Linked DNA regions of Homo sapiens: all the other regions are linked to region 3. Evidence: fine-mapped expression QTL. A gene starts in region 3. Each other region holds a variant in brackets. All regions are shown on one strand. Distances are from middle to middle.

Evidence for each region. PIP is the estimated chance that this variant, and not a neighbour inherited with it, causes the effect.
Region 1: its variant is the best candidate, but not a certain one, in a credible set for the expression of ZBED5 in whole blood (TOPMed, PIP 0.55).
Region 2: its variant is the best candidate, but not a certain one, in a credible set for the expression of ZBED5 in monocytes (Quach 2016, PIP 0.61).

Annotation. Positions count from the first base shown.
Region 1 is chr11:10,795,015-10,797,776 of GRCh38, reverse strand. EIF4G2 (eukaryotic translation initiation factor 4 gamma 2) reads left to right here. Exons shown (of 22, transcript NM_001418.4): 22 at 1-723. Among named protein-coding and RNA genes, the nearest start is that of SNORD97, 5.2 kb to the left of the region's middle. The variant C/T (reference allele first, on the strand shown) is at 1,380.
Region 2 is chr11:10,896,505-10,899,266 of GRCh38, reverse strand. It overlaps LOC124902629 (a long non-coding RNA gene), which reads left to right. Exons shown (of 2, transcript XR_007062588.1): 1 at 1-135. Among named protein-coding and RNA genes, the nearest start is that of ZBED5-AS1, 40 kb to the right of the region's middle. RefSeq lists an enhancer at 1-45. The variant A/C (reference allele first, on the strand shown) is at 1,603.
Region 3 is chr11:10,856,756-10,859,517 of GRCh38, reverse strand. It overlaps ZBED5 (zinc finger BED-type containing 5), which reads left to right and starts at 1,465. Exons shown (of 3, transcript NM_001143667.2): 1 at 1,465-1,656. It overlaps ZBED5-AS1 (ZBED5 antisense RNA 1), which reads right to left and starts at 1,301. Exons shown (of 3, transcript NR_034137.1): 1 at 1,152-1,301. RefSeq lists enhancers at 1-628, 1,030-1,119, 629-1,266, 1,420-1,799.

The sequences.
Region 1 (2,762 bases), 62 kb after region 3:
TGCTATGATGTAACTGCATTTGACCTAACCACTGCGAAAATTCATTCCGCTGTAATGTTTTCACAATATTTAAAGCAGAAGCACGTCAGTTAGGATTTCCTTCTGCATAAGGTTTTTTTGTAGTGTAATGTCTTAATCATAGTCTACCATCAAATATTTTAGGAGTATCTTTAATGTTTAGATAGTATATTAGCAGCATGCAATAATTACATCATAAGTTCTCAAGCAGAGGCAGTCTATTGCAAGGACCTTCTTTGCTGCCAGTTATCATAGGCTGTTTTAAGTTAGAAAACTGAATAGCAACACTGAATACTGTAGAAATGCACTTTGCTCAGTAATACTTGAGTTGTTGCAATATTTGATTATCCATTTGGTTGTTACAGAAAAATTCTTAACTGTAATTGATGGTTGTTGCCGTAATAGTATATTGCCTGTATTTCTACCTCTAGTAATGGGCTTTATGTGCTAGATTTTAATATCCTTGAGCCTGGGCAAGTGCACAAGTCTTTTTAAAAGAAACATGGTTTACTTGCACAAAACTGATCAGTTTTGAGAGATCGTTAATGCCCTTGAAGTGGTTTTTGTGGGTGTGAAACAAATGGTGAGAATTTGAATTGGTCCCTCCTATTATAGTATTGAAATTAAGTCTACTTAATTTATCAAGTCATGTTCATGCCCTGATTTTATATACTTGTATCTATCAATAAACATTGTGATACTTGATGTAGTGATGTGTGGCTGTAAATGGCATCCATAGTCTGGGAGAATTGTCAGCTTTGTTTTTGAGGTATAGGAGACCCACCTTAGTTTGACTTAAGGACTTCCCAATTTTTGTTTTTCTGCTGTACAAGCCTGGGTTCCAGAAGGAATTTTTAGACTCTTCAAGATGAGACACAAGATTTAAGGTGTTTATTTCCTTTGAGTTACTGAAACTAACCAATATAAACGATTTTTATGATCAAAGATCACAAGTCTTATGAATTTGGAGGAACATAGCTACACATAGCAACTAAAATTTGGTGACAATTTATCTTTTGTCAGACTGAAATACATGGTGATCTCTGGATAAGCTTAGCTGTCCTGCAAGCATCATTCCCAGTAGCTGCCCCAAATGTCCAGGAAGATCCCTGCTTCCTCTGGAAAAATTCCAGTGTCCCAGTAAAATTGACTTCATTCAACTAAACCTCTGCATGTTTTCCAAAAACACACACGAAGGATTTGTCTCCAGCCCTGGAACATTCTGACAATCCTAGGATTACTTCTAACATTGGCATGGATGGGGACTCTTGAAGTGTGCTACTGGAGTCCTGGTTGATGTCAACACCTAAGAACCTGTTCTTGGTGATTGGGGAGACCCTCAAGGCAGACTATCATACTGC[C/T]GAACCCATTAGAACCTTGAAGTCAGAAGAGGCTGCCTGCACATGCTCCAGTGGGTGGGAGGCAGAACCAATCAATGTTTTTGTGTCTGTCTTATTTGGGCCAGGGAAGCTAAATCTTGCATTATGGCACTCATCTTCCCCTGAAGTTTTAACAAGTCATAAGCTTTTGGGTACTTTGAGTACAGCAAAATTTAAAGCTAAACAGATTTGTATGAACCTACCTAAATTTTAAAGGGGCTGTAAATTGTTTCTCTGCCCAACCCTCCCCACGAAGGGGAGGAAACTAATTTTTAACCTAGCAAAAGGAGCAACTGGTTAGGTGGATCAGCTAGTCAATTCTTATTGCCAGAATTTGCCTAATTCAGCCAGGGTATCAGGCTAAAGGAAGTTTTAGAACTAAACCTGGGCCTGGGTGCAGTGGCTCACGCCTGTAATCCCAGCACTTTGGGAGGCCTAAGGCGGGCGGATCACCTGAGGTCGGAGTTCAAGACCAGGCTGACCAACATGGAGAAACCCTATTTTCTTCTAGAAAAATACAAAGCTGAGTGTGGTGGTGCATGTCTACAATCCCAGTGACTCGGGAGGCTGAGGCAGGAGAATGGCTTGAACCTGGGAGGCGGAGGTTGCAGTGAGCCGAGATGGCACCATTGCACTCCAGCCTAGGCAACAAGAGCGAAACTCCGTCTCAATAAAAAATGAACTAAACCCGGTACGCAGTGGTTTGTCATTGCTTACAGAATCATGCTTTAATCTTCCCACCCCAAACATGTCAAGAGCTACTCAAAATATTCAACCCATAGAGAATGTATAATACTGCTGCTACCTTGTTCTAAAGACACCTAACAGTGTACTTTATAATCTACCATACTGTGGAATGGCAGTATCTGGGTATAACTGGGATGTACCTTGCATGATTGCCAATTTCTTTAGTATCAGCATGTAGTGACTAATCTTCATTCACTTCATGGTGACTTCAAAATAAGATTGCATGTCTTTACTGCCCCCAATTTTTTTTTCCTTTACTGCAAAATTGAAAGAGTTGTCTAATTTTCCCCATTCTGAAGCCTCAGTAGGGCTTCACTCCCCTGGTTCCCCACACCAAAACTTTCTTAGGGTCACCAGTAACTCCAATGCTATATCCAGTAGGTTTTGATCCTCCTGTAGGCAGCATTTGACAAGTTACTCATTCCTTGAAAGTGTTAACTTGTTCCCAGGACATCTTTTTCTTCTCAGTTTCCAATGGGAGATGCCTGATCTCAACACTTTTTCAGTTGTTGTCATACTCTGCATCCATTCTAGCATCAAATCATGTTGATTGCATTCCAAACATTTTAGAAATTGAAGAACTCATTTCTTCAACCACCACCCTCATTTCTTACCTAG
Region 2 (2,762 bases), 40 kb before region 3:
TCCGGTTCCCAGCTGCCATAGCCCCTTTGGTCCCTTCACTTTGGTGACCCTTTAGGCTTCCCTTTTTAGACCACAGCTGTCACATGTTTCTGACTCAACTTGCTTCTGCCATGCCAGCGTCACCCCTGGTCTCAGGTGAGTACCCCATGATTCAGGCCCAGACCCTGAAGACCCCCTCCCCTGAGATCACTCCCAGAAGAGGCGGAGGGTGAGGGATTTGTTCCTGGGGTCCCTGCCTGGCTTCTCACCTTCAGCCTTGCGTTGTCTTTCAATTCCAGCACCTGGACTTCCCTGGTCATGCACCCGGGCATTGGCCTCAACTTAGGTCCTGATCCTCGGAGTCCCTCACTCACCTGGGACAGCTCTGTCCCGAACTCAGTTTCTGATTTCATGCTGGTCTTGCCCCAGTTACACCAACCCACCCCCCTCCCTATCTCATTGAGGTCAGAGTGGAGGAGGCTCTCAGGCTTCTGAAGGGAGGGAGGCAACACTGCCTCAAATGGAGCCCTGATGGGGCTCAGAGCCTGTGGGGAGTCTCACAGCTACCTGGGAATCTTTCTGTCCCTGGAGACAGCACAAGTCAAGGCACTTGAGGACTCTCAGTTGTGTGTAGGGAGGAGGATGCTGCTCCAAATAGCGCAGACAAGCATTCAGTTCTAAAACCTCAGAGCTCAGAGCAGCTGAAGAGCAGAGGCAGCCCTCTGGTCCCACATGGCTCACATTCTCTTCCTTGTCCGCCTGACTCCATGTGTGACTTTAGCAACATGTCTGTCGAGGATGTTCTACCCCTAGCCCCTGCACCAGCAAACAAATAAGTCCTCCCAAGGCTCCCCATGCCTGATGTCTCCATTCCCTCCACTCCAGAAGGAGCAGAAACAAGGGCCTGCTCCCCTCCTCCTCCTCTCCAGCCCTCATCACTCCCTTCCCTGGGGGCCAAGGCACTCAAAAACCATCTTCCCCTAAAAGCTCAGGGACTCACTTGGTTTTCTTTCCCAGAAGCCCTAAAGATAGTAGCTTTGCTTAATGAGAATGCCCCATGGTGAAATGGTGAGGACCAAGACTCTGGTGCCTGGTCCACAGGGGAATTCCAGCTCTGCCTCTTGCTAGTGATGAGACCCTAGACATGTGATGGAACTTCTCTATAGTGTTTCCTCATCTCTGAGGTTGGAAAACTAATGGTCCCCACCCCACTGCATTGCTGTGAGCCATATACGCATTAATTAGTGTAAAAATGGTGCCTCCATGTAATAAGTGCCGTGATGCACAAGCTCTCATTTATTGATTTTTCACTGTATGTGAGGCCTTACTCTAAATACCTTACATCCAATAATTCGTTTTTCCTAAGCAAAGTGAAATAGAGACAGAAGGATCATTTTATAATTCTAATTTAAATTATCATTAATATTTATTGCATAAGTTCCATCAACAGGAGTTGAAATGCATTGTTGAAATTCATCACAATATTTGCTACTTTAAAGAATCAAACTGTTTTTACTTTTTTTTCTTGTGCTCTCTCTCCTGGCCTTGTAAGGTTTATGCATAATAAATATTCATATCTGGTCAAAAAATAAACTAAGTTGTAAAAGGTTAGAGAATTTCCCT[A/C]TCTGAACACGCAAACCCAGTGTGTAAAGATGACAAAAATAAACCACCCAGGGGACAGAAACTCCCAGTAGTGCCCCTCCTATGGATACAGGCCTGTATCATAGTATGACATAGTACAGGCACAATTCTGTATGTATCTCTTTTTTTTAGAAACAGGTTCTCACTGTGTCACCCAAGCTGGAGTGCAGTGGCCCTCTCAAAGGTCATTGCTCACTGCAGCCTCAAACTCCTGTCAAGTGATCCTGTCACCCAGCCTCCTGAATAGCTAGGACTACAGGCATGCACCATCACGCTCAGCTAATTTTTAAATTTTTTTGTAGAGATGGGGTCTTGCTATGTTGCCCAGGCTAGGCTCAAATTCCTGGCCTCAGGCAATCCTCTCATCTTGGTCTTTCAAAGTCCTGGAATTACAGGAGTGAGCCACCATACCCTGCCCTGTATCTTTTGACTTAACATTAAATCATAAACAGTTTCCATGTTGCTGTATAGCCTTTGAAAGTATCACTTCAATGACTGTAGAATAACTCATTTAGTTGAATTACTATAATTGAACTGACATCATTATTGAATAATGGTAGGGTTTTTTTGCTATTACAAATGATTCTGTAGTAAACTCTTAGCAGAAATGACATTTTTTTTCTTTCAGGTGATTTCTTAGGCTAATTCTCAGAGATGGGGTTATTGGGCCAAAAAAGCAAACTATGGCTTTCCGAAGCTCTCATTGTTCCCATTATGTCATGCATCCCTGAGATGCAGTCAGCAGAGGATTCTATTTGAGGGACTAAACACTCCCGGGGAAAGCAGGAAGAAGGAGACGGGAACTAACATTTGCTATTGAGCGCCAGGCATCGTCCTACAGGCTTCGAAGTGAACCTTGGATGTGCTGCTGATCTGACCTGCCCAGATTTGTCATCATTGTTATTGTCTTGGCCTCTTATGAAGACGTTCACCCAGCAGGACTTCAGAAGCTTTGTTCACTCGATCTCATTTAATCCTCACAATAGTGCCCTAAGGAAGATATTAGTATCCCCATTTTACAAAGGAGGAAACGGGAACCTGGGGAGATTAAGCGAAGGCCTCACAGATCATGAATAGAAGAGGCTGGAAACCTAGTCTGGTTCAAGGGTGTGCTCTTTCTGCTCTGCCATGCTGTGCTTCAG
Region 3 (2,762 bases):
AAGCGCGACTGTACCCCCTTCCCAAAAACGATTTATGCATTTATGGTTAAAGTTCAAATGAAGCTGATTTAATAGAAATAATTTAAAAATAATAATGAGAATATATGGACAGCTTACTATAGGGTGAGATGATGTTGTAATTGACTTTAAAACATTTGGAACTAAATGTCAGTCCTAGGAAATTATGCACTCCTGTAAATTGTGCTATTAAGGGTTAGGTTTCTTTCAACACTTTAGATATTTGATCAGAAGCATATTTAAGAAAAACGAAAGCTGCCCTTGCTTTTGACCCCAAGTTGAGAATTTTCTATCATTGGTGCAGTGCCTGAAAATACGATCCAATCTTCATTTAGTCATTTGTACGGAGTCTGGAAAGGCTAAAACATTGCAAATAATAGGACCTACTCGTACTTTCCCCGCTTAAGAAGCGTATCTATTTCAAGGTGCCTATTTGGAAAAACAGACTCCAGGTCTCCACCACAGAACTTAACACAAAATGAAAGCACACAACCCGCAGCCTTTGGCTGTGGTGTTTTTGAAAACAAGGAAGGGCACAGAACCATGGCTTAAAATACCCGAAAGCTGCAGCCCACAAAAAGAGTATTTCAGGGCGGGTTGGCCGTTCCCTGCAGGCAAACGTTCGGTGCAGGCGGCCGGGCGTTCCTGCGGGGAGGGCGCCACTGTGATGCAAAGACATCAAGCGGACTTTCAGCTTGCCCGTGGACGCTGCGGTGCCGCTTTCCCTATCCAGTCCTGTTCCCGCGGCTCCCCAGCCTACCCCGGGCCGACCAAGAGGTCCGGCGGGGTCTGCGCCGCATCAGCGCCCGCTCGTCAGGCCTAGCCCTCCGCACAGCCAAGGCCGACCAGACCTCTAGACACTCCGTCGTCGGGTGTGGGGCGGAGAAGTAAAGGGCGAGTTTTCTTCCTAGATTCCAGTGGGAACCAAGAAAAGGAGTTGGCAGCTGTGTAAACTGGACCTGGGGTGCGGCCTCCGGGAACAAAAGAGGTGATAAATGCACAGCAGCCGAGGTTCTGCGTGCTCCTTTGGGGCCACTACGAATCCCCGTGAATCACCCCAGCCCGGGCAGAGGGCCAGAAATGATGAAAATGCAGATTCATGGCTTCCACTCCAGCCCTACAAGATCACCAACCGTATCTGGCAGTACCCAGGAATCTGCATTCTCGACAAGCGTCCGCGCCGACGGGGCTAGTGAAGTTTGAGAACAATTGCTTCCTACCCAGCCGCTCCGCTATCACCTAGGTAGCACGGCCGCTGCGGCTGAGGCTGTGACTGCGGCTGCGGCTGGGCCGCGCCTCAACCGAGCTTGGTCCTTTCCTTTGGTCCCGCCCCGCTGCTCAGCGCGGATTGGTGGCGGGACGCAAATCTGGCGCTGATTGGGCGGCGGCAGAGTCGCTCGTGAAGATTGTAGGGTTCGGGTGCTCTAGAGTGCTAAATTTATCTTCAGACCGGCGACCGCGCCAGCCGCGAATCGGATCTCTATGGAGATGGCCTAGGCGATATCCCTGAGCTGAGAGCATCACCCTGTCCCCGAATCCTTCTTTCCTCTCTGTTTTGTTTTTCATTCCCCTCCCTCTCTCCCCTCCCCCTCCAGTCCACGACGACTGGCTGTTGACCCTGTTCAGGCCTCGGTGAAGGTGAGAAGCAGAGCCGCCGCCGCGGCTAAGCGGTGCGCTCTGAAATGGCCGCTTCCTGGAACTGCCTAAGATGGCGGTCGCGGGCTCTGCTGTGGACCGCGGCGCTGCTGTGCAGCCCAGCCGCGGCAAAATCCGTTCTCTCCATCGCTGATGGAGATGAAATAGAGAGATGGTGTTGGGTGCTGAGACGTTTTCATGTGGTCGTTAGCGCAGGCGGCCGCCCGGGGACGCGAGAGAAGACCTGAGGCGAGGGTGGGCTGCGACTGGTAGGGAGCCCCCCAGTCGTGGCAATCTGTGGGCAGCGCGCACCTGTGACAGGGAGGAGCTGAGGGATAGTTGGCCCTGGCTGCACATCCAGGTGACCGTTTAAAAAAGCATTTAGGTGTTGGAAGGAGCATCTGTTCCCACCTTTTTGGCTGGCCTGCACTCAGATCCTGTCCTCCTGACCCTGAGGGTATTGTTCCCAGCCGGAACCGCCCGAAGATAGGGGAGAAAGGATTGTGATACTTGTCAGTTTAACCGGAAGGAGACTAAAGACGGAAGTTTTCCCCGCTCTTCAGGGAGTGGAAAGGAAACTTTACTCTCAAAGGAGTCCAGATTCTTTGTCCTCGAGAAATTCGGGGAAACACCTTCGAAGAGGTGGGGTTGAGGACCTTCTTTCTGAAAACAAAAGCTTCCTACTCTTCTGTGTCCTCTGGCAACGAGAGGGATCCTGATCTTTTACGTGAACCAGCAGCTCCACAGAGTTCTCCGTTGCAAAATCCAAAAGGAGACTGTGGAAGGAGAATCTGCTTTTTTGCTCCCAATAAGAAGCAGGGCTTTATGCTGTTGCTAGTATGAGACCCTCGACTTTCTGGCAGTTATAATCCATTGTTCATCCGTTTCGCTGCATAACCCAACTCCTAGTAACGAGATTTTTTAGTAGTTGGGGAATTAAAAGTATTCAGGAACACCCAAGTAATGGCTAGACACATGGGCTATGCAGTCAAACTTTTTGGGCTCTGAACTTGGTTTTTCACTTACAAGAGGTGTTAGCGAGATGTGTTAACCTGTGTCTGTTTATCTCTAAAGTGGGGTTATTAATAATCCTTGTGTCTTCATAGATG